Linked DNA regions of Homo sapiens. The protein of the gene in region 6 interacts with the protein of the main gene of each other region in a biochemical or structural test. Each region holds a gene or a part of one and is shown on either strand. Other genes may lie near its edges. The genes, in order: ITGB6, NUP153, RXRA, SOX10, TNKS2, MAPK1 and PTPN5.

Evidence for each region.
Region 1: the proteins of MAPK1 (region 6) and ITGB6 interact in a test that uses a peptide from one of them, tested with the Homo sapiens proteins (one study listed by BioGRID).
Region 2: the proteins of MAPK1 (region 6) and NUP153 form a complex in vitro, tested with the Homo sapiens proteins (one study listed by BioGRID).
Region 3: of the proteins of MAPK1 (region 6) and RXRA, one has a biochemical effect on the other in vitro, tested with the Homo sapiens proteins (one study listed by BioGRID).
Region 4: of the proteins of MAPK1 (region 6) and SOX10, one has a biochemical effect on the other in vitro, tested with the Homo sapiens proteins (one study listed by BioGRID).
Region 5: of the proteins of MAPK1 (region 6) and TNKS2, one has a biochemical effect on the other in vitro, tested with the Homo sapiens proteins (one study listed by BioGRID).
Region 7: the proteins of MAPK1 (region 6) and PTPN5 form a complex in vitro, tested with the Homo sapiens proteins (one study listed by BioGRID).

The regions. Positions count from the first base shown.
Region 1 is NC_000002.12:160,102,236-160,106,630, reverse strand, and holds part of ITGB6 (integrin beta-6 isoform a precursor), read left to right. Parts: intron 1-4,395. UniProt on the Homo sapiens protein: Integrin alpha-V:beta-6 (ITGAV:ITGB6) is a receptor for fibronectin and cytotactin. It recognizes the sequence R-G-D in its ligands. Internalization of integrin alpha-V/beta-6 via clathrin-mediated endocytosis promotes carcinoma cell invasion.
Region 2 is NC_000006.12:17,626,643-17,631,037, forward strand, and holds part of NUP153 (nuclear pore complex protein Nup153), read right to left. Parts: intron 2,898-4,395; coding exon 2,013-2,897; intron 1-2,012. UniProt on the Homo sapiens protein: Component of the nuclear pore complex (NPC), a complex required for the trafficking across the nuclear envelope. Functions as a scaffolding element in the nuclear phase of the NPC essential for normal nucleocytoplasmic transport of proteins and mRNAs.
Region 3 is NC_000009.12:134,409,395-134,413,789, reverse strand, and holds part of RXRA (retinoic acid receptor RXR-alpha), read right to left. Parts: intron 1-4,395. UniProt on the Homo sapiens protein: Receptor for retinoic acid that acts as a transcription factor.
Region 4 is NC_000022.11:37,974,435-37,978,055, forward strand, and holds part of SOX10 (transcription factor SOX-10), read right to left. Parts: coding exon 3,433-3,621; intron 1-3,432. UniProt on the Homo sapiens protein: Transcription factor that plays a central role in developing and mature glia.
Region 5 is NC_000010.11:91,843,099-91,847,493, forward strand, and holds part of TNKS2 (poly [ADP-ribose] polymerase tankyrase-2), read left to right. Parts: intron 1-1,820; coding exon 1,821-1,930; intron 1,931-2,653; coding exon 2,654-2,842; intron 2,843-4,395. UniProt on the Homo sapiens protein: Poly-ADP-ribosyltransferase involved in various processes such as Wnt signaling pathway, telomere length and vesicle trafficking.
Region 6 is NC_000022.11:21,857,300-21,861,694, forward strand, and holds part of MAPK1 (mitogen-activated protein kinase 1), read right to left. Parts: intron 1-4,395. UniProt on the Homo sapiens protein: Serine/threonine kinase which acts as an essential component of the MAP kinase signal transduction pathway. MAPK1/ERK2 and MAPK3/ERK1 are the 2 MAPKs which play an important role in the MAPK/ERK cascade.
Region 7 is NC_000011.10:18,739,303-18,743,697, reverse strand, and holds part of PTPN5 (tyrosine-protein phosphatase non-receptor type 5), read left to right. Parts: intron 1-268; coding exon 269-376; intron 377-622; coding exon 623-706; intron 707-1,194; coding exon 1,195-1,436; intron 1,437-1,810; exon of another isoform or gene 1,811-2,905; coding exon 2,906-3,095; exon of another isoform or gene 3,096-3,274; intron 3,275-4,395. UniProt on the Homo sapiens protein: May regulate the activity of several effector molecules involved in synaptic plasticity and neuronal cell survival, including MAPKs, Src family kinases and NMDA receptors.

The DNA.
Region 1 (4,395 bases), on a different chromosome or scaffold from region 6:
GATACAACAGCCAAATGCAATGTATGGATTTTGTTTGGATCGTGATTTGAACAGTCCACCTGTAAAAATACATTTTTAAAACAACTGGAAAAAGGCTGGGCATGGTGGCTCACACCGTAATCTTAGAACTTTGGGAGGCCAAGACAGGAGGATTGGATCACTTGAGCTCAGGAGTTCGAGTTGGGCAACATGGCAAAACCCATCCCTACAAAAAGAAATACAAAAATTAGCCAGGCATGGTGGTTCACACCTGTAGTCCCAGCTACTTGGGAGGCTAAGGCAGGAGGATCACTTGAGCCAGGAGGTCAAGGCTGCAGTGAGCCATGATCATGCCATTGCATTCCAGCCTAGGTGACAGAGTGAGCCCCAGTCTCCAAAATAAATAATAAATAAATACATAAAAAGACTGAAAAAAGATTAATACATGCTGGGTATTAGAATGATAGCAAATAAGTATGGTTAATTTGATTAGGTATGATAATGGCATGGTGACATTGCTAGAAAATATCCATATTTTTTAGAGATGCATACTGAAGGAGTGAAAGGAAATGAAAGCTGGGGTTCACTTTGAAATAATTCAGCCAAGAGAGTGGGATGGAGGGATAGTTGAAGCAGGTGTGGCAGAACTGTGATAACTGTGGAATCTGAGCGATGGGTCTTTGGAGGTTGGTTATATAGCTTTCCTCTTTTTGCGAATGTGTGTATTTTCCATAATTAAGCAAAATTCCTCAGGAGAAGATATAATTTACTCATCCCTAACAATGTAAAAGGTAAACAGGTTAGCTTGGTGACTTAGAACACAGTACTAATGAGCCCAAAGTTGTAGGACAGTTCACTTCACCTGACCCCTGGCCACAGATGTTATTTTTGACTTTCATCAACTCTCCAACAAATGCCTTGCCATGGTTAGAAGGGCAACCAGGTAAAAGAATATGGTTAAGTTGCCACAAAGGACAATAGCAGCAAGCCCCATGATATAATCCTGGTATTTCCATTTTGAAGAGCTAAACTAAGGCTCAGAGAAGTTAAGGGACTTCCCTAACTTTTGGTGCATGGTTAAGCTGAAGCCTAATTGTTCATTGTTCTTCTAAGCACAGCCTTTGGTTGACCCTCCTGGAAATAATAAGCAGGTGTTCCACAAACACGCACTTGGGCAATTATGTGATGTGTATCTACTAACCAGCACATTTCAATGTTCTCATACAGAGGCATAAATACTGACAAGTGATTAATATCTTTAAAATAACATTTTAATTAACAGTTAATTTCCCCAAAAACATGAATTGTTCTCCCTCAGGATGTAGAACATGACTGAAATTCAAATGCTGAATTTTTGCTGTTTCTTCATCTAACATGCGACCCGAACATGCATTAAACAGAAAAAAAAGCATAAATGGAAAATATTATTCCCTTATTAAATTGAGTTTCTTTGAATAACAAATGTTTGATGTTCCTGACTAGATAATGACTGGGTAGTAATTATTCACTTGGATGCAAAAAAGGTTTAACTCAAATAATTCAGTTTAAATTTCACTAACATCCTACTGGAAAAAAATGTCGCTCACTGCACACATTTAGGGGTCTTCAATTTAACTGAGTTTTTTCCCTAAAACCTATTTCTTCTTGAAGAAGTGAATTTGACTGGTCTTTGAAACCCAGTGCCCTCCAGAGACAATAGGGACAGTCAGGCCTCCTGGCCATAGGACTGCACTGGACTCATAAAGTGACAGGGCTTAAGACAGAAAGGTCTTCACTCCTACCTCCTAAAACATTTCAGAGCAGCTGTAAAGAAAGGTTATCTTTTTTATTATGCTTTAAAAAATAATGCCCACCCCCACATATTCTTTATGAAAACACAAATGAAACATATTTAAATTCATCTTTGATTAGAATTTTTTTTCTAGGATGACAAGTCATTAACTTGAGGCAAAAAAATGTTCAGCCTGACATTTCTTGCAGTCATGAATTGATTTTGTACTGTGCTAAGCAAATCAGGTCTGTGTTTGGCAGTTGGGCGATCATTAAGGAAGCTGTGGGTCATGACAGAGTTTTCCTATTACCACTTTTTCAATCTTGAAAAATGTGTCATTGCATTTGCAGAATCCACAGCCTAAATTAGCACTCCCAGACACCTGGGGGAATCAGCCTGGTAACCCCAAATGGTTAGGGGAAAACTGACCTTTTCTGAGCAGTGGATTGCACACTCACCCGAAATAGAGTAGGACTCAAGCCTGCATTTCAGCTGGAAAGTCTGTGTAGAGAGGTTACAATCAGCAGAGCACTAGAGGAGGCAGTGTGGACATTTCCACACCTCCTCCTGGAACAAAACCCAATGTGAGTGCATTATCCTGACCTCTGATCTTCAGCTGAGGCCAGGAAATACCCTATTACACACAACAGCAATATGTACTTGCTCTTCGTCCACTTTTACACTTCCACCTTACCCTCTTACTCTAGTGAAGTCTGCTTTACCCATCACTCCCTATAAGCAATGTCTTGGCCCTAAACCAGTATTGCAAGGGACTCCCAAAATATTGCAAACCTGAATGAATGAAGTTGCTTTAAAATACGGAATGAAAACTCTGCCATCAAAATTAAACATTCAACTAAATATCTACTAAATAACATTGTGTTATCTTGTCAACTGCAATTCAAGTCACCTCCTCTATAATGCATATCAGTTATATTAAGTGTGGGATATGGGTGTATTGTAGTATGTTTGACATGATATAGGGTGCACCTACAAACAAGTATCTGGTCCTACGGAGCTCTAAGCTGGCCCTGCTCACAGCCTGTGTCCTCTTTCCAAGTGTCTTTTCTGTTCACAAAGGTGGGAGCTTCCTGGAGGAAGTGGGAAATTCCTCCAGGACAGGCTTACCCTGTCATTGCTGGCCTGAACCTCTTACTTTTTTCCATCTTGTTTCTTCAATGGAGTCTCTCATTCTCCTGTAACCAACTAGATTCTAGTCTCAAATTTAATAGAATTCCATGCATGATTTTTGTTTGCAAATGAGACTCCATCTACATCTAAATTCACATCAGTCTGCCCTTTGCCTTCAAAATCTCAAATTCTTAGAGCAGCAAGACTAGATAAGATCTGGAGGTCCCTCAGAATTAACCAGGCTGCTCTCAGGAATAGAAGCAATATACCAACTTAGCTTTCACCCATCATCCACCACCAGCCAAGGAACATTTTTCTGTTTGGCTTTATTATAGAAATAGCATATCTCTTTAAAGGCACATAACAAAAGTAGCATGTCACTTAGTCAGAGGTCAGGCCACTGGCTCTGGACAACATAGAAATGGGTGCAGGTGTGATTCCCACTCACAATGAGGGCACTGAGGCCAGTGAGTGGGAAAGACCGGGGAGTGTTTCCGATTTTATTCAATTCTTTTAAGAGCTGAAAGAAATATACTGAGCAAGCAAAGACAATTAAGGTTTTTTTTCAAATCCACCCCTAGAAATTTCTACCATAGCTATAATTCATGGAATGAGGTGATCAAAGTATAAGATTTTAACTTAGAAGGTCAGAGGCGGTACCTGGATTCCATACATACTCAGTAATGGGCTTAGAAATGTTAAGTGTACCAAAGCCCTGGGGGAAAATATCTTAATAATCCTCTCTAAAACCTAAAAGAAAAGGAAATTCCAAATGTGAAGAAAAGCTATAAATAGGAACTAATGAGAAGAGGCAGCATTTATGGAGCATTTGCTATGTGCTACACACAGTGCTAAAATACTTTACCTGGACGAGGTAGGAACAGATAGGGACACCAAGGCTCAGAGTGTCTTCAGTACGGTCATGTGGTGGAGCTGGGTTTGGACCCAGACTGTTGCCATAGCCTGTGTGATCAGCCTTGGAAAGTGGGAGAGAAGAAACTGTACCTTACCCAGACACCTTCCTCCGGCCTGGAACAACTAGAGAGGCTTGATCCTTCTGGACCTTCTGGTCCTTTTGGCTACAGCACCACTGCTATTGGCACCTGGAGGCACATCTATAACCCAAACAGCACAGCTGAGCTACCCAAGAGTCCCACACCCAACCTTCCCACTGCCCCCAAGGCAAAGCCATTTTTCCTGGCCTGCCTTTGGACTGCAACTCTTTCATGACCCCAGGGTCCTCCATACCAGTCTCTTGTGGTTGTCTTACACAGTGTTGTACATAGTAAGCAAAAGACAGCTGGTTCTTTGGCTACCCAGGGCAAGTGTTAGCTGTCCAGAGGATGGTTCCTCACTCCTCCCAAGCAACTACTTTCTCCCACTTCTGAGTTTTGATTTCATCTTAGCATGATTATTTGTGCCCTTCTTTGATGCCTCTCATGAGTAACACGTTTGTTAAAGGCAGATACTGTGTCGTTCATTTTTGTATGTTCCTACTGGTTTCACTTTTCCTG
Region 2 (4,395 bases), on a different chromosome or scaffold from region 6:
TTCCTAAAATGCATATACTTGTTTCCTCTACTGTTATCACTAGACTGTTTTAATTATTATAACTTTATACCATGGACTGATATTAGTAGGACAAAGCTGCCTGTGTGCCTGCCCTTCTTCCCAAAATTTCTTGTGTGGTTTCCTTTCCATGTGAATTTTAGAATAAGTTTAGCTTGTCAAGCTCTACAAAAATTCCCCTAAGAACTAAAATTATGGGAGGAGGAAGGGAATACCTTCACCCAGCAACAAGTATGCCTTTTGTGTTCTTTTAGTTATTTGGCATGTTACAAGTTCTGCTGCTTTTATAAAATACAAGTTAGAAATGTTAGGAAAAACAAATGAGACATGCTGATTTGAAGAAAAACTTTTGATTTTTATATGGTGATTCTGAATCCAGCCACCTTATTGAAGATTTTTTTCTAAACTATTCCAATAATCTCTCAGTTCCAATACCGCACACTATCCAGGGCTGGTCACAGTACACTATGGGCATTAGTATGACTTACAGAAAATGGAACATGTTGGCTTACTTTCAACCTGGCTAATGGAAGAATGGTTAAGAGTGTCTACCATAGCCTGGTGTTTTCATCATCAAATCTGATTAGACCCTATCATGTTTTTGTTGCTTTCCAAATAATATGTAATTTTAGTTTTGATTTTGTCTTTATATTTCTAAGTAAATATATAACAGACAAAAAACTGCTCATAGCTATTTGTTGAATTCCATACTTTTTAAAGGTTAATTTTGAGTGTTTCCAATTTATTATTCAAAAGTATTCATGGATATTCAACTTTTGCATTTTTTGCACATCTAAAAACATCTGTATTTTGCCTTTGTGTTGGTGTTTTTTTGTTGTTGTTGGGTTTTCTTGAGACAGAGCCTTGTTCTGTTGCCCAAGCTGGAGTGCACTGGGCCAATCTCTGCTCACTGCCACCTCCGCCTCCCAGGTTCAAGAGATTCTTGTGCTTCAGCCTCCCGACTAGTTGGGATTATAGGTGTGAGCTACGGCACCCGGATTGTCTTTATATTTAAACACATTTGGCTAGTAACAGAATTCTAGGTTCAAGAACATTTTCACTTTAAGGGCACTGTTGTTTTTAGCATGTGATGTTACAAATTAGAAGATGATGCTAATCTGATACCTGCCTATTTGTGGCAAATAGCTTTTCTCTCTGAAAGCATTTGGGGTTTTAGCTTTGGTGTCCTAAATTTCAGTGATCTTTGCCAATAGGTAATTTCCATTTTTAAGACCAATGTCTTTCTTTAGATCTAGAAAATTTTCTTCTGTCACTTCTTTGATATTTCCCCAAAACTTCTTATCTTCTAGGCCACTCCTATCCCAAAGGAACTTGTGGATCTAACTTGGATCACTCTTTGTACTGGTGCACTAAGTTTGGGGAAATTCTAGTTCACTAATCTGATTATCAGCTATGAAGTTCTTCCTGCTATTCAGCTCACAGAATGACTTTAATAGGATCCACCAACAATCATGCTTTTAACCTTTAAGGTGCTATGTCATTTTTTTCCCCAGGACTTCAGCTTTCAAAATCTCTTGTTTTCTCAGGATTAATTATATTTGTTGTCTATGTTTCTTAATGTTTGATGAGGACTGGTTATCTGTAACTATTTGTAAATAAAGGCCTTCCCATAGATTATGGTAGAAAATACTTCATAAGCTAAGAATCCTTATTTTCCAGGTAGTAGATACCAATTCTGATTATAAAAGCCCAAACAGAAGAGAAAGACACACATAAATATGCACTATATTGAGCTTTGCATTACTGCTGTATTTCTCAAAATTAGATCCACAGATGACTTCACCAGAATCATGAGGGTTTTAAAGAGCAGTTCAAACTGAAAATCCTAGGTTCCTTCCCAAAGAGTTCTGTATTTCTCAACTATGTTCAGTGTAAACCATTAATTGACTTGCTGCATCTGTCAAGGCAACTTGTAAAACGACAACTTGTAAAAAAAAAAATAATAATAATAATAATAAAAAGTTAATACTTACCAGCTGTAGTACTAGTTTGAGCTCCAAAGGCAAAAGTGGCTTTTGCTGGCTGTTCAGATTCCTTCTCAGATGGTTTTGTCATACTAAAACTAAATGTGGACTTTGAAGAATTCTCATCTTTGGTTTGCTCTGAATTCCCAAAGGAAAACACTGGTTGACACTTTGGCTCTTCATTGTCAGCTTTCTTCCCAAAAACTAGGGAAGTAGAAGTGACAGGCTCTTGCTGTTTCTCTTCTGTCCTTCCCAAAACAAACACTGAGGCAGATGGCAGAGAGGCAGGCTCCACGTTGCCAAAAGAGAATCCTCCTTTGGTGGCAGGCATTTCTTCTTTTTTAGCTTCTGATGTCTTACATGTGAAAGGAGCCACTGAAGCACTCTTGGTTTCTATGGTTCCAAGGTTGAAGCTGCTCTTGTTCTCAGAGGTCACTATGGTGTTAGCAGGAGCAGGGGTGGAGTTAATAACACCTGTACCAAAGCTAAAACCTGCAGAGGAAGATTTGGGCAGTTCCTCTTTCTTTTCTTCCTGTCCAAGATTAGATACCCCAAATTGAAATGGAGTTAAAGAAACTGGGTTGCTTAAACCAGAAGAAAGTCCAAACTTAAAATTATCATTCTTACTATCTTTTTTAACTTCTTCGGGCTTAGATTCAGATGAAACTCCAAATTTAAAATCTCCTATTGGTTTAGAAAATTTAAAGCCTTCACTCATGGGGTTTATAGACCCAGAATCGGATGACACACCTATTTTGAATCCTCCCTGATCTCCAAATTTAAAATTTCCAGTGCTTGTTAAAGTCTGAGAAGGCCCAGAAGAGGATGATGAGACACCAAATTTGAAGGATGAGGAGGCTGCTGAGTTCGAAGATGAGGAAGATGTGTCAAAGCCTACAAAAATATAAAAGACACCACATAGACACTCAATGTACTGATCCTCTCAAACAAAATGTAAACACTGTGAAAGCCAAAGAAACATAGGAGTAACTTTGAAAGGGCCTACTTTGAAGAGTATTACCAGCAGCTGTAAACATAATCCAAGGTGACCTATATTTAGTCGGTATGAGAATGATATCTCAATCCTCACAACTATCCTGACAAGCCACTTTTCATTTATCAGACTGGCTGCGATAAAGTTTGATAAAGTTTGTACTAGTGATGAGACTGGAAGTAACAGGCTACACATTGCAGGTGGGTGTATAAATGAACACAAAACTCATAGAGAGCAATCTGTCAATAGTTACCGAAAATTACAAATGCATATACCCTTTGACCTTGCAATTCTATAGCTGGAGTTTGTTTTAAAGATAAACTCATAGACATGCAAAATGCCATATGCAATCCAGGCAGCTATAAACGAAGAAGGAAGAACAAAGATGTGTCCAAGATAATCCCTGATAAAATCAAAGGGGCAGAAAGGGAGTGCGGTATACAGACTTTTCTAACAAGGTAAAAGGAAGTAAGAATATATAGGGGTATGTATGTTTGCCTTGGATGGGCATAAAGAAACTTTGAAAGATTTACAAGAAACTAACCACAGTTACATTTGGAAGTGGGAGGGAAGGTGGAAAAAGAGACAATGGAGAGAAGAGATTGAACCTTGTCACAATTTCTTGATTTTTAAATCTTGTGAATAAATGTGTTATTCACTCAAGCATTTAAAAAAGGAAGGCAACAGAAAAACAGAAGAATTACAGAGTTGAAGCAATGTTTATAAAGTTAAACATCAGACTGGGCGTGGTAGCTCACGCTTGGAATCCCAGCACTTTGGGAGGCCAAGGCGGGCAGATCACCCGAGGTCAGGAGTTCAAGACCAGCCTGGCCAACATGGCGAAACCCCATCTCTACTAAAAATACAAAAAAAATCAGCCAGGCATGGTGGTCTGTGCCTGTAGTCTCAGCTGCTTGAGAGGCTGAGGCAGGAGAATTGCTTGAGCCCGGGAGGTAGAAGTTGCAGTGAGCCAAGATTGCGCCACAGCACTCCAGCCCGGTCAACAGTGAGACTCCACTTCAAAATAAATAAAGAAAAGAAAACAGAGGAGAGCAGAGGAGACGGGAGACGAGAGGGGAGGGGAGACAAGAGGGGAGAGGGGAGGGGAGAAGGGAGGGGAGAGGGGAGAGGGGAGAGGAGAGAAGAGAGAAGACAGGAGAGAAGAGAGAGGAGAGAAGAGAAAAGAGAAGAGAGCAAGCATTATACTGACAAGATCAAAGTCTTGGTTTCATAATGCTTTTCTGCAGCTAAGGAAATCAGAAATGAAGTACTTGACCTACTGGCTCAAAACAAGGATCATTAAGAAGTACTAAGATACTTAAAAGTATGGTGATTACCACACTACAGGTAGAGAACAGTATAAAAAGGGGAGCATGAATTAACAGCTACAGAAAGAGA
Region 3 (4,395 bases), on a different chromosome or scaffold from region 6:
GTGCAGCAGCCCCTCAGAAGCAAAGGACATCTCCGACCTGCCACAGCCCCTCAGGGTCAAGCAGGAGGGAGGGGGTCTGGGGAAGGGCAGACAGCTCCGAGGCAGGCATGTCGGAGCCGAGGGGCATCCCCAGGCCCACTGGCTCCTCTGGCTTGGGTAGTGGCAATGGCTGAGTCCTTCCTCCGTCCCTTGTGCAGCCCAGGGCTGGGCCCAAGACAGGCAGGACCGAACTCCACCAAACCATTCTGGCCTCCTCTTAAGGGTGGGGAGACAGAGACCCAGAGAGCAGCGCCAGAGGCCACACAGCAAGCTAGAGTCTCTAAAGGGAGTGACTTACCTTCCCTCCAGGGCTTCAACCTAGAGCAAGGCATCAGAACACGAGAACCATGCACACACACGTGCACACAAACCATGCAGACATACACACACAGACACACAGAGACATACCACACCACACATACCACACCACAGACATATCACACACACACCACACGCACACCCATACACCACACAGACATACCACACCCACACCCACACGTGACCACTGCTCTCCAACCCCACCACCAGCCACGCACAGCACTCTCATCCACCCCCAAGCTCGCAGGGGTCTTCCTGATGCCCCCAGCCCATCACAGATGAGGAACCTGAGGACTGGGCGAGGCAAGGTCACTTGCCCAGTTCACAGGCCAGAAGGCAAGAGGGCCACACTCGAGCCCAGCCGGGGCTCCCTTCCCACAGCAGAGACCTGTGGGTCAGCCACATCCCTGCAGTGCACGCACATGCACACACGTGCACACATAGGTGCACACACGCCAGACCCTGCTGTTTCCACACCCAGTCCTTCAGAGCTGGAGGGTGGGCACAGGAAGCAAAGGCAGGCAGGAAGGAAATGGGAAGCAGCCTTCCTGAGGGAGGAGGAGGAAGCAGAATGGGGGACAGCCACTGCCCCCTCTAGACCAATGTCTCCCCCGACGACCCTGGGTGGAAGCTAGGTCTTTTCCATCGGACTGGGAACCCCCAAGGGTGAGGCCTGTCTTCCCCATCAGAGCACGTGTCCCTGCGGGACCCCCAACCCCTGCCCCCTCCCCGGCTTCAGCAAACAGGCCCAGGCTCAGCTTGGCAGAGGGCCAACACCCACCACTGCACGTCCCCCCACCTCTGCCCACCCCTGGTCCCGGGAATGCTGCGGAACGAGTCCCTCCTGGTGGCTGCCTGCGCGTGCAGGCCCCATTGCCCAACCTGAGATGCTATCAGCCTGTGGTATCCTACCGCATAGGGGTGGGAACCCATCTGCCCCAGAGCCAGAGTGGGCCTTTGCCGGGGGCAGAGTCACCGCATGGGGGCACCTGGGCCATCCTGCCTTCAGCCAGCCCTGGGACCAACCCCAGGCGACTCCCTCGCAGCACTGCACTGGGATGCGACGCCTCAGCTCCAGCCTGTTTCTAGGGGTCTGATCACAAACCGGGCCGAGGGACCACTTGACACCAAGGCCAGTGGGCGGAGCTGCCCACCAGGGGGCCTGACACTTAGGAGGGCTCAGTCCCCAGAGCCGACAGCTCCCATCCTGCATGCTCTGGGCCACAGGCACCTAGTGTTGGCCAACTTGGCCCCATAGCTTTCTCCAGGGCTGCTGCAATGCCTCACCCATGCAGCCAACAGCCCTGCCCTCCGCTGTCGGGGAGCCTGCCTTGCAGTGGTTTGCCCAAGAGGAGAGAGGGGAGTGCTCTGCACTTCAGGACCCATCTGGAGCCAAGGGGTCTTGCCCAGCACCCAGACGCAGGCCGGGGAGGAGGGTGCCTGCCAAGCCCTCCCAGCCACCGTTTCCACGTGGGGTCCCTGCAGGGCGAGTGCCTGGGCTGCACCAGGGGCCCCGTTACTGCCCAAGAGTAAGGAGCTCCACAGGCCTGGCTGTGCAGCCCACACAGCCAGGCTGGGGGAGGCAAGAGACTCCCCCTGTGCACAAGGAGAGGCACTGGCAGCAGGGCACGTTTGGCACGGGGGCCTCACTGCCTCCTCACCGCCCACGCAGAGGTGCCCTCCACACCGAGGCTGAGTTCTGCAGCTGTGTTTGGGGCGAGAGCGCTCGGCAGCATTCTGACTGCAAGTTCACGCCTCAGAATCCTGCTGGAGGCAAAGGGGAGGAGGTCCCTTGACAGCAGCAGCAGTTTCTCTCACGGCCCTAAGTCTGGTCTCCAGGGCTTATGCGCTGCCAAGAGGAAGGACTGGAAGCAGGAAGGACCGGCAAGAAATGGGGGCCACGCCTGGTGCTGGCCCTTAGACCTCCCCACGGCTCACCTCTCTATACCCCATTTCTCTGTCTCACAGGTATGGGGCGAGTGAGACCATGTGTGGGGATCAGGAAGGGGGTGTCCAGGGTGGTCCCCCACATGAGCTGCTCCTAACAGGACCCAGTCACCGATGGGCACCAGGGGAGCGGTCTGACCAGGTGATTCCAGGTCCCCCCAGCCCCAACACTGCACGGTTCCACTGGGATGGGATGGGGTGTCGTCCCCAGGCTTTGGGGGGCCCAGGCAGCTGGAGTCTGATGATCCCAGGCACATGGATGACTGGGCTGCAGGGCCTTAGGAAGGAGTCAGTGCAGCCTGGAGGGTCCGGGACGGGGCTCAGAAAGGCCATCACCGACTTCCGAGGGCCAGGTGTGATGACAGCCTCAGACTTCACGGACACTGCTCCCTGCAGCCAGGCCTGTGGTGCCGACACCTTTTCATTCCTCAGGCGTCAACAGCCCTCCTGCCTGCCTGCGTCTCACCGGGTGCCCGAGGCAGGGTCAGGTGCCTCCTCTGGGCTCCCACAGTGCCTGAGCTTCCCCTAAGCCTGCACTGGCTGCCCCCTGGGCCCCCCCTGGTTATCTGATGATCACTTTCAAAGGACAGCGAGCTTACTGCTGCAGGCCCAGGCCAGGCATCAGCCATGCACAGCGCTCTCATCTGCCCCCAAGCTCGCAGGGGTCTCCCTGAAGCCCCCAGGATCTGAGAGTGGTCTCGGCTAAACCAAGCTCTCTGTGCTGTGGCATCCTCACAGAGACTGCCAGGCTAAGGCTGCACACGAGGCCTTCCCCCCCCAGCTCCAGCCACGCCTCGGGCCTCCACCCCAGAACAGGCCAGTCTCCACGCCTGGGCACAGGGGCCCCGGCCACTGCCTACTATGCCTGCCCCTGTCCCAGTTTCCATCTTCCAGGGACAAGGCTGCACCTGCCACCACAGCAAGCCTCCCTGCCCACACCAGGCACCCGGAAGAACCAGACTGGGTCCACACCTCTCCAGGCTGGGTACACACCTCTCCAGGCTGGGCACACACCTCTCCAGGCTGGGCACATGCTCCTCTGCCCTCTGGTGAAAGCAACAAGGTCTGGATGGGGGCCAGGGCCCAGCATGTGACCCTGCGCAAGGCTTGAACCGTCTGCCCTCGGTTTCCCAACCTGCACAGCACAGGGTGGGCCTGAGCAAACGTCAGCACTCCATGAAACACGAATCCCCATCAGAAAGGCCTGACTGGCAGCACTGGGCATGGCCACACCAGCTCTGGAAGGCAGCTCTGCTATGCAGGCACAAGGACCTCACACCAGCCCATACACCACACTCAGCCTCGCAGCCCAAGGAGGACACCCTCCAGGAGCACGGCGCCTGGCAGAGGCTCTGATTTCTCAACAGGACCGTTAAGGCTGAGAAGACATACACAAGAGAGATGATGAAATGAAACTGCAGCACCAAGGTGGCCACTCAGGACATCCCTGACGGTGAGACAGTGGTGTGGGTCCTGTTTGGGGACCCCACCAGGGGCTGGCGGGGAGGAAGTAAGACACACCAGCCACACAGGTGTTGGGCCTCAGGAGCAGCACAGCAGAGGACAGAGGAAGGGTGTCCTGCAGAGCGGGGGGACAGGGACAGACCAACAGATCTTCACCCCAGACAGCACCTCCCACCTCCACAAGGCCCAGGGCACGGGACCCGATGGGAGGAACTGAGGCACACCCCCAAACGTGTGTGCAAACCATGACCCAGGGACCCACTAAGAGGCCAGGAATCGCCAAACCTGAGAGGGAAAGGGGATGTGACAGATGGGGAAACTGAGGACTACAGCCAGCCAGGACTGGGAAGTCACAGTGCCTGTGGGGCCCGGGACTCCGACCCAGGTCTGGCTGGATGACTTGACAATTTTGGTGACATCGGGGGAGGGACTTCCCTGCAAACCGCCCCGACACAGATTTGTTAATAAGACGAGCACAAAAACAAAAGGAAAGGAGGAACTGCTCCAAGAGCCTGGGGGCCATCCGGCGGCCCTGCGGGGTGCCACAGAGTTGGCCTCGGGAGGAAGCTGGCCCGGGACCACCCCTGGCATCCAACAGCTCAGAAGATGCCCCCGCTCCACCTCTCC
Region 4 (3,621 bases), about 16 Mb from region 6:
CTCTGCCTCCTGGGTTCAAATGATTCTCCTGCCTCAGCCTCCTGAGTAGCTGGAATTACAAGCGCCCACCACAATGCCCAGCTAATTTGTGTATTTTTAGTAGAGACGGGGTTTCACCATGTTGGCCAGGGTTGTCTTGAACTCCTGACCTCAGGTGATCCACCTGCCTCGGCCTCCCAAAGTGCTGGGATTACCATCATGAGCCACTGCGCCCCACAGCATTTGTTTAAATACTGGTGTCTTAGATTGATCTCTAGTTGTTTATGAAATTCTCAAATCTTAGGGATGGGTCCTGGGGAGGCCTGCCTCATTCTGAAAAAACCTTTCCTGTGGAAAGTTCTTCCTCTCATCAGCTTCTCTGCTGTCCAGGTGGTCTGGCCCAGCCTTTGCGCTCTGCCAGCCCCGCTTCCACACCCATGCCTACTGTCTTCCTTGCTGAGCCTCGCTCGCCCAGGCTCCTGAGTGCTCTGTTTCACCTTTGCTGGTTGCCTGGGCCTGCTCCCTGTCCTGGCCTCATGTTGTGTCCTTTCCAACCCTTCCCTCCTCCTGAGCCCACCCTGCTTCCCAGCCCACTGGCAAGCCCTTAGCCCCGTCATACGCTGGCCTGTGTTGCCCTGTTGTTCTTTGAGCTGCCTTCCTCCATGGGAGGGCACTTAGAAAACTGGTCCTTGTTCCTTTGTCTGTTCACTTTCCTATTCACATATTAATTTAGCAAACTCTTAGGGAGCATTACAAAATGCCAGGTACTGTGCCAGGTGCTGGGGATACTAATGTAAATAAAATGGATCCCTGTTCCCAAAAGCTCATAGTCTAGTCATAGATCCATAGATCCACATGCACCCAGAGTTGGAAGTGCTGTGGTGACAATATGCAAGGACTTGGGAGACCAGAGGAGGAGTCCACCCGCTGCCTCAGGGATTTGGGGAAGGTTTGATCAGGGAAGGATGTCTGAGTGGGGTGGGGCCTTGAAGGGTGAGAAAAAGTCTGTGTCCAGTTTCATTCTGAGGTGGTTGCTCTGTATGTGGTCCAGGGTCTCCTGATGTGTGTGTGTGTGTCCCTGAATCTTTGAAGGTGAAGAGTATGTACACGTGTGTGGGAGGGATGACTGCCTGGCATCCCAATGGAGACAGAACATGTCCATGGTCTTAAGAGACTAGGAGCTCCCCAAGGACAGGCCTGTGCCTCCTTCATCAGACCAGAGGCAGCGCCAAGTCCTGCATTGGCCAAGGGCTCTGTACTTCAAGAGACCTGCCTAGGCTTTTGAATCCTGGTTCTGTGTCTGGACAAATCCCCAGTCTTCTCTTAACTAGTTTCCTTATCAGTAAAATAGAGATTGTACCAAGCAGCCCAGGCATTGCCTCTTTCTGGAAGCCTTCCTTGACAAGAGTCTGGTGGGCAGTGGGGTGTTCTTGGAGACCTGACTGGATGGGATAGACGGCCATGCCACCTCTGGATCTCACACAGACTTCTTGTGCACTTGTTTCTCTCTCTATATATATACTATATATATAGTAAGAGATAGGAGGCTGGGCGTGCTGGGTCATGCCTGTAATCCCAGCACTTTGGGAGGCTGAGGTCAGGAATTCGAGACCAGCCTGGCCAACACGGTGAAAAACCATCTCTACTAAAAATACAATAATTAGCTGGGTGTGGTGGCGTGCATCTGTAATCCCAGCTACTTAGGAGGCTGAGGCACAAGAATCGCTTAAACCCAGGAGGCAGACGTTGCAGTGAACCAAGATGGCACCGCTGCACTGCAGCCTGGGCAACAGAGCAAGACTCCATCTCAAACAAAAACAAAAACAAAAAAAAGACAGAGTCTTACTACATTGCCCATGCTGGTCTCAAACTCATGGGCTCAGGTGATCCTCCCACCTCAGCCTCCTGTGTAGCTGGGACTGCGGGCGCATTCCACCATGCCTAGCTTTGTTTCTTCCTGTACTTAATTCACTCGTTTTCATCCCTGCTCCTCTCTCTAGACTATGGGCCCCTGAGGCCAGGGACTGTAGGCTTCTCTGGTTAGTACCCCTGGTGTCCACTCCAGTGTTTGACACAAAGTAGGACTCAGAGCGTGTCCTCTGAAGGCAGAGCTCTGCTCACTGAGCACTTCCCATGTGGCAGACCTGTGTGTGTCACTTTCTGTACATTAGGAACACAGGCAAGGCAGCTGTGGTGCCAAGCAGATGCCCGGGAGCCAAACTGGGGAAGTTCCTGTTTGTTTCTCATCAGTAAAATGAGAGTAACTTGCCACAGCTGAGATCTGAGCCCAGGCAGTTTGGGTACCTCATCACATTGTTTGCAAGGATTGAGTTAGTATACATAAGGCAACTAGCACCTAGCACAGTGCCTGGAACAGAGTAGCTGCTCAATTAAGGTTAGCTGTTATTATCATTAATGAAAATTAAACAAGATAGCTTATGTCTGGCCCATCCATGGCCAGACACGGTATCACATGCCATGTCTCCTCTGTCAGAATGGCTGGTGGGATTTGGGAGGCCGAGGCGGGCAGATTGCCTGAGCTCAGGAGTTTGAGACTGGGCCTGGGCAATATAGTGAAACCCTGTCTCTGCTAAAATACACAAAATGAGCCAGACGTGGCGGTGTGCACCTGTAGTCCCAGCTACTTGGGAGGCTGAGACAGGAGAATTGCTTGAACCCGGGAGGAAAAGGTTGCAGTGCACCGAGATCATGCCACTGCAGTCTAGCCTGGGCGACAGAGTGAGACTCTGTCTCCAGAAAAAAAAAAAAAAGAATGGCTGGTGGGAAAGAGGCAGTGATTTCCTCTCCTCCATTTGCTCTTCCATTTCTCAAAACCATCCTGTCTTCTCCCCCTTTACTTGTAACTGCCCCAGCCACCTCTCACTCCATGACCTCCACAGAGTCTTTTTTTTTTTCTTTCTCTTTGAGACAGAGTCTCGCTCTGTCGCCCAGGCTGGAGTGCAGTGGCGCGATCCCGGCTCACTGCAAGCTCCGCCTCCTGGGTTCACGCCATCCTCCTGCCTCAGCCTCCTGAGTAGCTGGGACTACAGGTGCTCGCCACCACGCCCAGCTAATTTTTTTTATTTTTAGTAGAGATGGGATTTCACCATGTTAGCCAGGATGGTCTCGATCTCCTGACCTCGTGATCTGCCCTCCTCGGCCTCCCAAAGTGCTGGGATTACAGGTGTGAGCCACCACACCCGGCGGCCTCCACAGTCTTTAACTGGCCCTCTTTGCCCAGTAGGATCAGCCCTGGCCAGAGCCATCTCACCCAGCCACTTCCCCTGGCACCGGAACCCCCATGGAGCTCCCTCTGGGCCCCTGCAGCTCTGCTGGGGCAACTGCACAGCCTGGCACGCTCTCCCTAGAGTCCAGGGTCTCATTGCCATCCAGCCATCTCCTGTCTCCACTGACTGGCCTTGCCCCACCCTCAGCTCTGTCATCAGCACTCACCTGAGGGGTGCTCGGGGTTCCCATCTGACATGGGGGAGCCCTCTCCTGGGTGCCGGTGGTCCAAGTGGGCGCTCTTGTAGTGGGCCTGGATGGCGGCGGTCCCACCTTGCTCGGCCTCCCCACCGGGGCACTCCGCCTCGCCCTGGGCGGCCTTCCCGTTCTTCCGCCGCCTGGGCTGGTACTTGTAGT
Region 5 (4,395 bases), on a different chromosome or scaffold from region 6:
AAAAAAAAATCTCAAAACTCTCAGAAGTTACATAAGCCTCTCACCAAAGTTATCTGTTGTTTTGGTTTGTGAGAGTTCTCATAACAAAATACCAAAGACCAGGTGGCTTAAACAACAGAAATTTGTTTTCTCACAGTTCTGGAGGCTAGGAGTCCAAGTTCAAGGTGTTGGCAGAGTTGGTTTCTTCTGAAACCCCCTCTTGGCTTGCAGCTGTCTACCTTCTCAGTGTGTCCTCCATTGGAACATGGTGTCTCTTTCTATATGTCCTAGTCTCTACTTTTAAGGAAACCAGTCAAATTAGATTAGAGCCCACCCTAATGGGCTCATTTTAACTTTTTTAGCTCTTTAAAGGCTCTGTCTCCAAATAGAGTCATATTCTAAGGTACTGGGGTTAGGGCTTCAACATAAGAATTTTGCAGGGTACAATTCATTTCGTGACATTTGTTTTAAGGTTTCACTCATAAAACTGGCACAGTGTACCTTTGTTTTCAGTGCAAATATACAATATATTGTGGTTTCAGTACAGCTTTTTCAGCTGCATTACAGATGTTAGGAAATCATTAAAATCACTGAGCTATAGCTAATACCTCAGTGGAGTTCCATCATAGACACAGCGGACTCATACAAGTTTGTCTAAATATACATGATTTAAACATGGTATAAAAAGCAAGAAAAAATAATGCAAAATTTCTGCCATTTCGTGTAATGTGGGAGATGGAAATGTATGATGTTCATTTCAGTCTTGTATTATAACTTGGTGTTATACATGATTTTTACCTTTAAATTCTCACTCCATGTAAGTTGAGACCTCACTGTCCAAAGAAACCAATTACTCTATGTGTCTTTCAAGTATTTTGGAAGTGATAAGCCACAAATGCTAACATGGTGAGAAAAAGCTTTACTTCCACTGGCTATCAGGAGTTTCTAGTCCATGCAAGACAAAATATGACTTGACCTTTGATTGGAAGTTGTGCTGTGCATATTTATGTTAGCTTTTATATCTTTCTTGTAGCCTATCTAGAACACTTAACATTACTGTGTCCAAGTTGTCTTTGTAAGTCACAAATAATTTGTATGCATAAAATATTTCTGTCCACTTCTGCAGCGTTAAATACCATACCTTGAGACCTAGAAAGACTTTTAGATTAATGTAATATTTTATGGTAGTTTTATAATTGTATTCTTCTTTACTTGATCTTTTTAAATTCTTTTGCTTTAAATCCTTTAGCAAAAGGATAAAAACTATAATAGAAATAAGTTTTATTTCATGGCTTTAACAGCACCTAAGTTCCTCTACTAGACTTGCAGAGATGTGTACCTCTGAGTTCTCTCTAGCAAAAAAGCATGCTCTTGTGGCCTTCTGGGGAAGAGGACTCTGAGGCCCACTCTGGTTTGACTTGTATGTGATTGCAGACCTTTGACTTGCAGCCTCTGAGACCCATGTACCTGAGTTCAAGAAGTGGTATGTAACACCCATGAAGGCAGAGACTTTGGTAGGAAGGTTTTCATAGGAAAGATACAAGCAAATCAGTCAATATAATTTTGGGAATCTACAAAGCTAATTGATAACACAAAAAGCTTCCAACTTGAGGCAAGGGGGAAATGTTTTCCAGAAGGTAAATTGTTAATAGAGTCCAATGAGCTATTTCAGATTTATACAAAATCTCTTTTTTTATGTTTTCAGTAATGTCTATGCCTTATAAATACATATATATATGTATACATGTAATGACTTTTTTATGTTAACAAGTGGAAGTATTATGACATAGGACTAAAAAAGAAAAAACAAGTAAAGTAATTTTACTTCTTTTCTAAATTAGCTGGTTATAATAATTTAGAAGTTGCAGAGTATTTGTTACAACACGGAGCTGATGTGAATGCCCAAGACAAAGGAGGACTTATTCCTTTACATAATGCAGCATCTTACGGGGTAAGTTCTTCCGTGTTACCTTTAAAAATTTGTGGAATTTTAAAGTGAAAGTCAGTATTGCAGCTCAAATGGAATGTAGTTTGATGTTCTCATTTTACAGAGAAGTAAGTGGCAGAGCTAAAGAAGTTAAATAACTTCCAAATTTCGGTTCTGAATCTGTTCTAAGCTTGCTGTGTGATATGCGGTGTATTGTTGTTTGTTTTATTATCTGCCTTAACACCTGTCTCTTATTTTCAGTGAGATGTTGGTGATTGTGTTTATTTGTTGGTACCCAGAAAATCCACTGGGGCACCAACGGGGTAGATGGAATCTGTACAGATTCAGATGCATTGTTCCTGACTTATCATAGTCCAATGTGACATTCAAAATTGACCATCTTCAATGGTATAGTTTGAATAATTGAGGAAGATTGCTGCTTTATAAATTGACATTTAGTAGTTATAACATTTGAATAAATTAGAAATTATTGAAGTCATATTAGTCTAGTTTCCTGCTAAATAGAATTCTTAACTCTTTTCTAGATAGTTTCTCAAGTTATTGAAATGTCCACTGTAATTTTTAATCAGCTACTCATAAGTTGTGATGTTGGGGAGAAAGAGTTTTTCTTTTCATTTCCAGAATAAGTTTGAAAATGTGGAAGTAGGTACGTAACTAGTTTCATTTTAAGAAAGTAAAGTGTGACAAAATAATATTTCAGACTGTAACGGGTATTTTCTTTTACAGCATGTAGATGTAGCAGCTCTACTAATAAAGTATAATGCATGTGTCAATGCCACGGACAAATGGGCTTTCACACCTTTGCACGAAGCAGCCCAAAAGGGACGAACACAGCTTTGTGCTTTGTTGCTAGCCCATGGAGCTGACCCGACTCTTAAAAATCAGGAAGGACAAACACCTTTAGATTTAGTTTCAGTAAGTGATGGGCTTTTTGAAAAATCTCAGTGCTTTTCTGACTTGTTAAAATTCACTTGATGTTATTATAAAATGTCTTTATAGTCAATGTGAATGGCAAAATCTGGGTTTTAGCCTGATTTTAATGTAAGAGTTCTTTAGTATTAAAATATAATAGAATTATAAAGTAATATAATTATCCTTCTGTAGAATAGAATTATCAATCAGTTATTATATACTGAGTATTTTGGAAATAGGAAAAAGAAGTACATGATATAACTGCTTACGTTAGTTAGGAAACTAAACAGACCCAGGCCCTCAGAAAATGCTGTTACTTATAGTGCATACAGCGCAGATGGTACAGACCATGGGTCTTACACACGGCCCCAACTGGGAACATTGCCCCCCAAGGTGCAGCCACAAACCCTGCTGCCAGTAGAGATTCCTTTTCCTCCCACACTGCCTCATCCCAGAGTTCTTGTTGCTCACCCTACCTTAACTGTTCATGAAACAAGTCTATTATCCACTTTCCTGTGGAGGTCCTGTTTTCCTTCCCCTCTCTCCAGAGCATGGAGCAGGTGTAGGAGCTTCCACTGAACCTTCCACCTCTGCTTTGGGCACTGAAGCAGATGCCTCTCTTGCCTCTACCACTGAGGACATTGACTAGAGCAGTGGAAAGAAAGGAGGAAGGAATTCTTTTTGAGATGAGAAGGAAGGGGAATCTTTTCTGCAGACTGCTTTCTACTGAGAAAGATTACATTGTTCCACATTACAATAAGAAACTGAGGTAGTTCAGCTGCATTGGTGCTTAAGTAGGTTTTTCTCAGTCAGCTAACAACCCAGCCATATTTACAACATTATCTCTTCAGGGAAATATCTTTCTAGTTCCAAGTTACCTTAAAAGTGAACATTTGGAATTCATTCCACCCATATGTTAGTTGACCAGATACAATTAAGTTACAATGAAGCAAAATGCTGTAGAGAACATACAGGGGCTTTAGAGTCAGACAGACTGGGCCTAGAATTCCAGCTGCACGATTTAAGTTGTACAATCTTATGAACTGCCTAACCTCTAAACCTTAGTTACCTCATCTATAGATAGAGGTAAAATATATCTGGTTAGTATGAGAATTAAATGGGGTAATTTACTTAAAGTCTTTGGCATGGTATCAGGTACATAAAAAGCACTCAATAAATGGTACTATTATTATAAACAAATGTCATTTACAAATTGTGAGTGCAATGGGAATGCATAGACTGGGGGAAGAGAAAGGTGATGACTGGAATAGTCAGAACAAATGACTATGAAACAAGTACTAATTTATTCCTTGCTGAACATTAGTTGAACGTTGTGAAAGAAGAGTACATATTACAAATTAAACAAATTAATGTACCAATAAATGTGAGGACTTTTTTCCATTCTAGCAGATTTTTTTTAATTTTTATTTATTATTATTTTTTTGAGATGGAAGTCTCACTCTGTCACCCAGACTGTAGTGCAGTGGCACAATCTGGGCTCACTGCAACCTCCGCCTCCCAGGTTCAAATGATTCTGCTGCCTCAGCCTCCCGAGT
Region 6 (4,395 bases):
CAAAGTCCTGGGATTATAGGCATGAGTCCTGCACCCAGCCTAGCTGAAAATACATTTAATACACCTAACTTACCAAACATCACAGCTTAGCTTAGCCTACCTTAAACATGTTCAGAGCACTTACATTAGCCTACAGTTGGGCAAAATCATCTAACGCAAAGCCCATTTTATAATAAAAGTGTTGAGTAACTCATATGATGTATGAAATACTATACTGAAAATGAAAAACAGAACAGTTGCGTGGGTACTCGGAAGTAAGGTTTCTACTGCATGTGTATCACTTCCATACCATTGTAAAGTCATCTGACCACCAAGCCAAATATTTGTACTTCTGCACATGCTGCTTTACATAGAGACCGAGACAAAGGGGGATTCACATCTTGTCAACCCTGTTTACTTCAAAGGAATAACAGAGCATTAACTAGGTACCAAGTGCTCAGGACTTCAAGTATACTGTTTTATTTAATACTCATGACAATCCTTTGACCCCTTACTTGTGACTGGCAAGTTACCCAACTTTTGTTTCATTTTCCTCATCTGTAAAAACCGGAGAGTGATACACACTCCCTGGAGAATGACAGGGAAAACAGTACCAAGAACTTTAACCTAACAAGTCAGAAATCAATGAGACCCCTTTTGACAATTCCCACCTTGCCCTTTAGACATTCCGAGATATGCAGCTTTATTTAATAAATGACCCCACCTTGGGCCTCAGCTGACTAGACCAGAGGCAGACACTCTCCCAGGCTGGAAAGGCCAGGTGGAGTGAGCTGTTCTGTGCAGAATGATCTCCCTAACAGTGTTTTTACACATTCTGTTCCACTTGGAATTGGATTCAGAGTGTTCTCAGCCTCTGGTCATCAAAAAACCTGAAGACACATACCTTCAGGGAGCTAGGGTCAGCTCTCCTCTGCTGAGTGCATGGGGAAGTGACAAAAGAGAAAAGAGGGGGGAAAATCCAGCTGCTGAGAGATGTAGGGTACAAGAAGCTTTTGTAACTGTAAAGAGGGAGGGAGGTAGCTACGTTGGTCTATTTTCCAGTTCCTGGTTCCAACTATACCTAAAGCTTTAACTGCACTTTCTATCCTTGCAGTAATATGACAAAGGCCCCCAGATCTTAATCATAAACTTTTCATTTTCTATAATGCAGTCTCTACAAAGTAGTGCCTAAAACATTCCAGCACTCTACCCTACCTTTTACCCAGCTAGCTCTAAGTCTTCCTTCAGGTCCCAGCTTAAACACCACTTCCTCCCGGAAACCCTTCATGACTACTCAGAATATCTTATATCATCCAGTGGCACTCCACACCTCACCATACTCAGTAAATGTTATTACTGCCCTGTTGGACTGTAAACACCAAAGAGTAAGAACAACTTTTGTTCACTACTTTGTTCCTACTGCCTAGCACATAATCCGGTACGTGTTTAATAATATTAAATGAATGAAAATCAAGAAACTGGTAGAGGTAACTAGAAGGAATGGGAAGAAATCAATACTGCTTCCTGATAAAAATTAAGTTGCTAGATGACAGATCCTTTGGAGATAAAGAAAAAACAAAAACAAAAAACAAAGTTACTTTAACTCTAATCCTTTCTAGCCTCTTCTTCAGGTCTGTCTGCAATGGCATAATCATTTTATACTTTAGGGCTAATCCATTCAGGAACCCAGGCTGTAGGAAGTACGTTTCTAGGTAACTCGGTATAACAGAGAAAAGCCTATAGTAGTTAAAAGAAAAAAGGTCACAGGATTTGGGGTCTGCATAAATCTCAATTTACATCTCAGTTCTGCAATATACTTACTGGCTGTGAACCCTGAACGAGTTACCTGACACCCAGTTCCCTTATGTGTAAAGTGCAAAATATAATACCTCAAAGACAAGGATGACGGTCAGGCGCGGTGGCTCACACCTGTAATCCCAGCACTCTGGGAGGCTGAGGCGAATGGATCACGAGGTCAGGAGTTCAAGACCAGCCTGGGCAACAGGGTGAAAGCCCATCTCTACTAAAAACTACAAAAAAAAAAAAAAACTTAGCCAGGTACAGTGGCAGGCACCTGTAATCCTAGCTACTCAGGAGGCTGAGACAGGAGAACTGCTTGAACCTGGGGGCAGAGGTTGCAGTGAGCCAAGATCGCGCCACTGCACTCCAGCCTGGGCAACAGAGTGAGACTCTGTCTCAAAAAAAAAAAAAAAAAAAAAGACAAGAATGAGAATGAAGCTTAAACCAGCAAGGCAGGCTTGCAACTAACATTAGTCAGTTGATCATGGCATATTATCCATGCAGACACCTGCTATCCAGCTCCTACTGGCCATAGGTTCAAACCCCAGGGCCTGCCTTGAGTCTGAGAATCTGGGAGGGACCTTGGAGACCATCTATCCTGTGGGTTGCCCAACATCATTTTCAAAGCAATCAAATCCTTTTTCCAAATGGGATCTTGCCCTGCTAACCCTAATAGTTACTACCTATGTGAACTGAAGATGATAATGACTAAAAGGAAATTAAGAAAAAGAAAAAAGACTAAGGGCAGAGGAAGAAGGGAAACGGGAGGGGAAGGAGGTAGATAAGAGAAGAGCAAAGAATAGAAAAAACAGGGATTAGGGGAGAGAATGCTGTATGTGAAGTTTCCCTATTTGGGGTGAGGCCTGAAGCCCCTAAGAGAGGAGGAGATTTGAAAACCACAGACAGAGCCCAGTCCTTTCATGTTATAGCAGGGGAAATAGAAACACATAAATTTTGTTCAGCTGCCTATAGCTTTCTCCTCCTGTGGTTCTGCTCAGTTTCCAGAAAGCCTGGGTAACGTCTGAATCCTCCTGGAATCTCTCTTCTTCCTTCTGGTACGGTGTGGGCCATTTCAAAGCTCAGGCAGGTGGCCTTTCCTAGAGGGAGCAGAGACAGCGCAGCTACTGGATGAGCTCCTAGGCACCTTTCAGTGTGGGAGCCTCAAGAAGTGAAAGAAAAAAAGCAAATCTAAAGGGGAGCAAAATAGCATCTCAGGATTAGGCAAGAGGGTGGGTGGAGTAGGCCGGAGGCAAGGAGCTCTAGATGTTTGTTGGGGAATGAGGTGTTTTTCAATTAATAGGTATATAAATTGTGAGCAAGGTGAGGAATAAATTACATACAGTTTTGGGGAAAAGTCAACTTGAATTTACACAAATCAGATTATGGGAATGGTGTAATGGTTATAGCTAACTACCAGGAATACATCATTAGGGATGCTATTAATATAAAAATTAATTTTGTTTTGACTTATCCTTTTACTCTAAACTCTGCTCAGAAACACTAGATTCTTCTGTTACTCATGTAAGCTGCTGTCCTTGCATCTTTGAGCTCCAAAAGTGTAGAGGAGACTTCTTGATTAAAAAAGTTAAGTAAACAATGAGCAAGCAAAATTAAGAATCTCAATATCTCTGTCTCCAGGTCTAGAGTTTTTATATATGATATATGTTATTGCTGTTCCTGCCTTTCAAACAGGTGGTACAAACACCCAGCAGAGATCCATGAAGAGAGTGCATTAACAGGAAGCAATAGGGCAAAGTTCATAGAGATGAGCTTTAGAGAAAAGCGGGACTTAAATAGAGCCTGATGTTTCTTGGGGCAGGCTGGGGTGCTGTACTATGGGCATCTTGGCAGGATGATTCTCCAGTGGAGGGAGTGTACCGTGCAATCCAGACCATTTAGCATGTCTGCCCTTGACATGCCTACTGACGGCCAATAACACCCCCTAATCAACGTGACAACACAACAAAAAGCCGCCCCCCTATACATTTCCAAATGCCTCTGTAGCAGGGAGGTAAAATCACCCCCACTGAGTACCACGAGATAAAGTAGGCACAATGCGGCCAGGTGCAATGGCTCACGCCTGTAATCCCAGCACTTTGGGAGGCCGAGGCAGGTGGATCACCTGAGGTCAGGAGTTTGAGACCAGCCTGGACAACATGGCGAAATCCTGTCTCTACTAAAAATACAAAAATTAGCCAGGCATGGTAGCACACACCTGTAATCCCAGCCACTCAGGAGGCTGAGGCAGAATTGCTTGAACCCAGGAGGCAAGGTTGCAGTGAGCCTCCAAGCAAAACTCTGTCTCAAAAAAAAAGTAAGTAAGTAGGCAAAATGGGCAGAAAGCATAAGAGATAAAGTGGGAGTGGAACTGGCAGACAGAAACAGGGCCATCCTTTAATGACTCCGTCACCCACAAGATCAAGTCCAAAGTCCTTACCAAATAATGCCCTTCAGGATTTGGCCCTGCCTACCCCCAGCTGTCTCAACTCCCACCTTCTTACTAAGGCACCCTACACTCCAGCCTTCCCAAGTAATTTGTGGTTTTCCTGACCTGATGCACTGTGTTCACGGTCTGTGCCTTTACATGCACACTTCGCTTTGCCTAGAAGGCATTTC
Region 7 (4,395 bases), on a different chromosome or scaffold from region 6:
GGAGACTACTCTTTTGATGTACATATTTGTGAGGTCCTCTCTGGAAAGGGCTTTCTCTTGGTTCCCTTCAGTCAGCTTTTCTCCAAGGAGAGTCCTGAGGCCTCCCCGGGCACGCAGCACCGGGGCCCTGCTCTCAGCTGCCCGGTCTGGACCTTAGAGGTTCAGGAGCCTCCATGCAGGGCCAGGTTGAGGCTGCAGGTGAGCTCTGCTGGGGGAACACGGGGGAAGGGGGCCGGCTCCATACTCAGCCTGCTCCCCTGTGCCCCAGCTTGCCTGTGGGGTGCTCTGGTTCAGCGGTTATGGCCACATCTGGTCACAGAACGCCACAAACCTCGTCTCCTCTTTGCTGACGCTCCTGAAACAGCTGGAACCCACGGTAAGTAAGCTTTGGGGAGTCCTAGGGTAGCAGGGATCTGTTGGGGGCCTCTAGTCCCACCCTCCCCAACCTCCAGATTGGGCTTCTCTGAGTTCAGAAGATACTTCCAAGCCCCTGAAGTTCTTCTGCCTGCTCCCCATCCCAGACCTGGGACGTGATTTTCAGAATCTTGGTTTTGTCATCATTGCAAGAGCTGAGAACTCTGCCCCCACCACCACCCTGACCTGTTTATCTGATGTTCCCCAGGCCTGGCTTGACTCTGGGACGTGGGGAGTCCCCAGTCTGCTGCTGGTCTTTCTGTCCGTGGGCCTGGTCCTCGTTACCACCCTGGTAAGGCGCCTCCTGACCCCAACCTCAAGGCTGTCCTCCTCTGACCTTGAGGCCTGGATTTCTACCAGCTCCCATCTGACTTATAGGCTGGACATTCTGGGTGGGGCAAGGAGGGATACCTATCTCTTTGCACAAGTGTGCCAGCCTGGGGCAAGAGCCTCCTTCTTTCCGAAAATTGGTTTGCAGTGATCTGGGCTAAGGAAAGGGGATGAGACAGGGAGAAGACTGGTGTAGGAACTCCCAAGCCCCACTGAGAAGGCCTGAAGCCACAAGAAACAGAGAGCTGGGAGAGGGAGGGGCAGGGAAGGAGAGTGGGCATGGAGCCTCCCATCGAGGCCAGGGGCAGTGCCTTGTGGACAACTCCCAGGAGAGCAGAGCTGCTCTAGACACACTGAGGGAGTGGGGGGGCGTCAATCCCATGGGCACTCCAGGAACACGGGGGGCAGCCAGCGTGGTCCGAAATCTGTGATGCTGTACACCCCAACCAGGTGTGGCACCTCCTGAGGACACCCCCAGAGCCACCCACCCCACTGCCCCCTGAGGACAGGCGCCAGTCAGTGAGCCGCCAGCCCTCCTTCACCTACTCAGAGTGGATGGAGGAGAAGATCGAGGATGACTTCCTGGACCTCGACCCGGTGCCCGAGACTCCTGTGTTTGATTGTGTGATGGACATCAAGCCTGAGGCTGACCCCACCTCACTCACCGTCAAGTCCATGGGTCTGCAGGAGAGGTGGGAGGGGTGGAGGAGGGGTGGGCTCCACGGGCCCTTGAGCTCTTAGCTCCTGATCAGAAGAGTGGATGCCTGACTCTGACTCCTGGTGCCCAGGGCAGAGCTGGCCTTATAGCTTAGCCAGTGTAGACATGTGCTATCCAGGTCATTCATAGAGATCAAAGTGCCCCAAGATGAATGCTGAGAAATACTGTTACTGCACACGCACACATAGGTGTACACATGTTCACACACACTCTCCCATGCTCAAGTAAGTTTGGGTGGTTTTCTTTGCTGCAGGACTTGTCAGGGCCTTTAACATGCTTATGTTCATTGTAAATCAGCAAGGGGGCAGTATGTGGCATTTCCCAAAGTCACTTGACCACGGAACTCTATTTTTTTGTTTTACTTTTATTTTGGATTGAGGGGGTGCATGTGCAGTGTTGTTACCTGAGCATATTGCATAATGCCGAGGTTTGGGGTACAAATGATCCCATCACCCAGGTACTGAGCGTAGTGCCCAGCAGTTAGTTTTTCATCCCTTGCCCGCCTCTCTCCCTCCCTCCTCTAGTAGTCCCCAGTTTCTATTGTTGCCATCTTTATGTACCTGGGTACCCAATTAGAACCTGTTTTTATAGGGTAGCTCATAGTGTTCCACAGAGCACACTTTGAGAAGTGTAGACACCCTCGTTTCAGAGTCTAGGTGGGTGAGCCAGATCACACCAAATTTGAGTTACCCATGTGATGTCACAGAAAGAACACTGGGTGTGGAGTCAGGAAACCTAGCTTTTTATTTCAGCTCTGCCACCCCCTTACTGGGAGAGCCTGGACAACTCTTGGCCCTTCATGGGGACTCAGTTTCTCTTTCTATGTAATGAAGCCCCATCCTGTCCTGTGTCTGAGACTCTGAGTATAGTAGAGTTTGCCCATTGTAGACATCCTTGCGGCCACCGTGCTGCTCCTGGGACTCCCTCCTTCCTGACAGCGGGGGTCCTGGCCTCTCCTGGACAATATGTCCTTGACTCACCAGCAGCCTCATCCCAGGGCTGTTGGGCCCGGGACTGCAGTGGGGAGGGTCTGGAGCCATCCTCTCGGGCCCAAGCCCCGCTTCTGTGCTTCAGGCAGGTGTCCCCTCTCTGAGCTTCCTGGGGACCACAGGGTAGAACTTCCTCCAACGGTGATGGAGGAGAGTCCAGGGTAAGGCCATGTTGGGGTAGCTTTGGATGGAACTTTTAGAACTGGAGCCCCAAATCCCCACTAAGTTAACATCTCCACTGCAGGAGGCAGGAGATAGGGAGTCAGGCCAATGCCTCAGGGCTGAGATTCACGCTTCTTTGTCAGGGGGTCTTGTCACACTCCCACTCCTCTTCCTCAACCCCACCCTGTTCCCAGCTGATCTCTCCCTCCCTCATTTTCCCAGCCCTGGAGACCCCAGCTCATGCCCGTCCCTCTGCCCCTGAGGCTCACACTCCCTTTCCTGGTCCTTCCAGGAGGGGTTCCAATGTCTCCCTGACCCTGGACATGTGCACTCCGGGCTGCAACGAGGAGGGCTTTGGCTATCTCATGTCCCCACGTGAGGAGTCCGCCCGCGAGTACCTGCTCAGCGCCTCCCGTGTCCTCCAAGCAGAAGAGCTTCATGAAAAGGCCCTGGACCCTTTCCTGCTGCAGGCGGAATTCTTTGTGAGTTCCCTTGAGCCGGTCGCCCCACTGTGTGCAGACCCATGTCAATCATCCACCTGCCCAGGTGGTGGAGCGTGGTGCCTGGAACTCAGCATCTGCAGTAGATTAGTATCACTTTATTATCAGCTCTCCCACCATCTTGGGCAAGCTGCTTTCCCTCTGAGCTTCAGTTTCCTCATCTGGAAAATGGGGATGAAAATAATAGAATTGTTGCAAAGATTAAAGAGACTTATAACATGTGCAGAGCACCCAGCCAGGTGATGGAGGTACAGTGACAATGCTAAGTCTTTATTGCCCAGTGCTGTGCTCTGAAAGCCACAGAGAACCTTCACTTCTAACTCTTCTGTTTTCCCACTTTCCTCCTGCCGAGCATTGTTCTTCTGCCTTTGAAATCTCTCTAGTGGCCTCCCCTCGTTACCACCCCTGGGGCCCTAGCTTAGGTCCTAATCACCTCCACCCTGGCTTCTGCAGCAGCCTCCAGCTGCCTCCTATTGGACTTTGAGGGGCTCAATAAATGGCACCCCTGTTTACCTGCCTGAGTGCTCAGCCAGTTAAGAGCTAAGGCATAGGAGATTACAATATCACCTTTGTTGTCAATAAAATACAGGTTGGAAATGTGGCTTAGCAGGGTACAGCAAGAGTGAGCCTCCCGATACTGAGACCCAGAATTACATGCACTTTCCACCCTCCACAGGGGTGCCGGCACATCTCGGACCTTGCCGCATGGGGGCACCCCTATAATTCTTTCCTGGCAGGAGGGCCCTGAGAGGAGGAGGAAGGAAGGGGCTGAGGCTCCAAAGCTCCATTCCTCAACCAAATTCACCAAACAGGTAACTCCTCACTTCTGTGAGCAGGAAAAGGCAAGAGGCCAAGAGTATCTGGGGTGAGTTCCTCCTGGTAGAAGCCACAGGGGTACAGAAGCAGGTGCCTCCTCCCTCATAGCTCCCTTCCTTTGGCCTCCGCCCTGGGCCTGTCTGGACCGGGTAGCTCTCCCCTGTGAGAAGACCTCCATCATCATCTGATCTGCTGCTCCAAGTTCTCCAGAACTTGGTACCACCTGCATACACCATCAGCACCCCTTACCTCGTGTGGCCCCAGCCTCCTTTTCCAGCCTTATGCCCCATGCCCCACCCCTGCAGGGACTGTCCACTTCAAACTGGGCCAGTCTCGTCCGTGCCTTTCTCCTCCTGTGCCTTTGCTCACATCATCACTCACTCCAGATGCCTCTAGAAAGCCTTCTTTAACCACCCCAGCCTCAGCTCCTTCTCTGAGCTCCCACTGCCATCATCTCCCCTTCGAG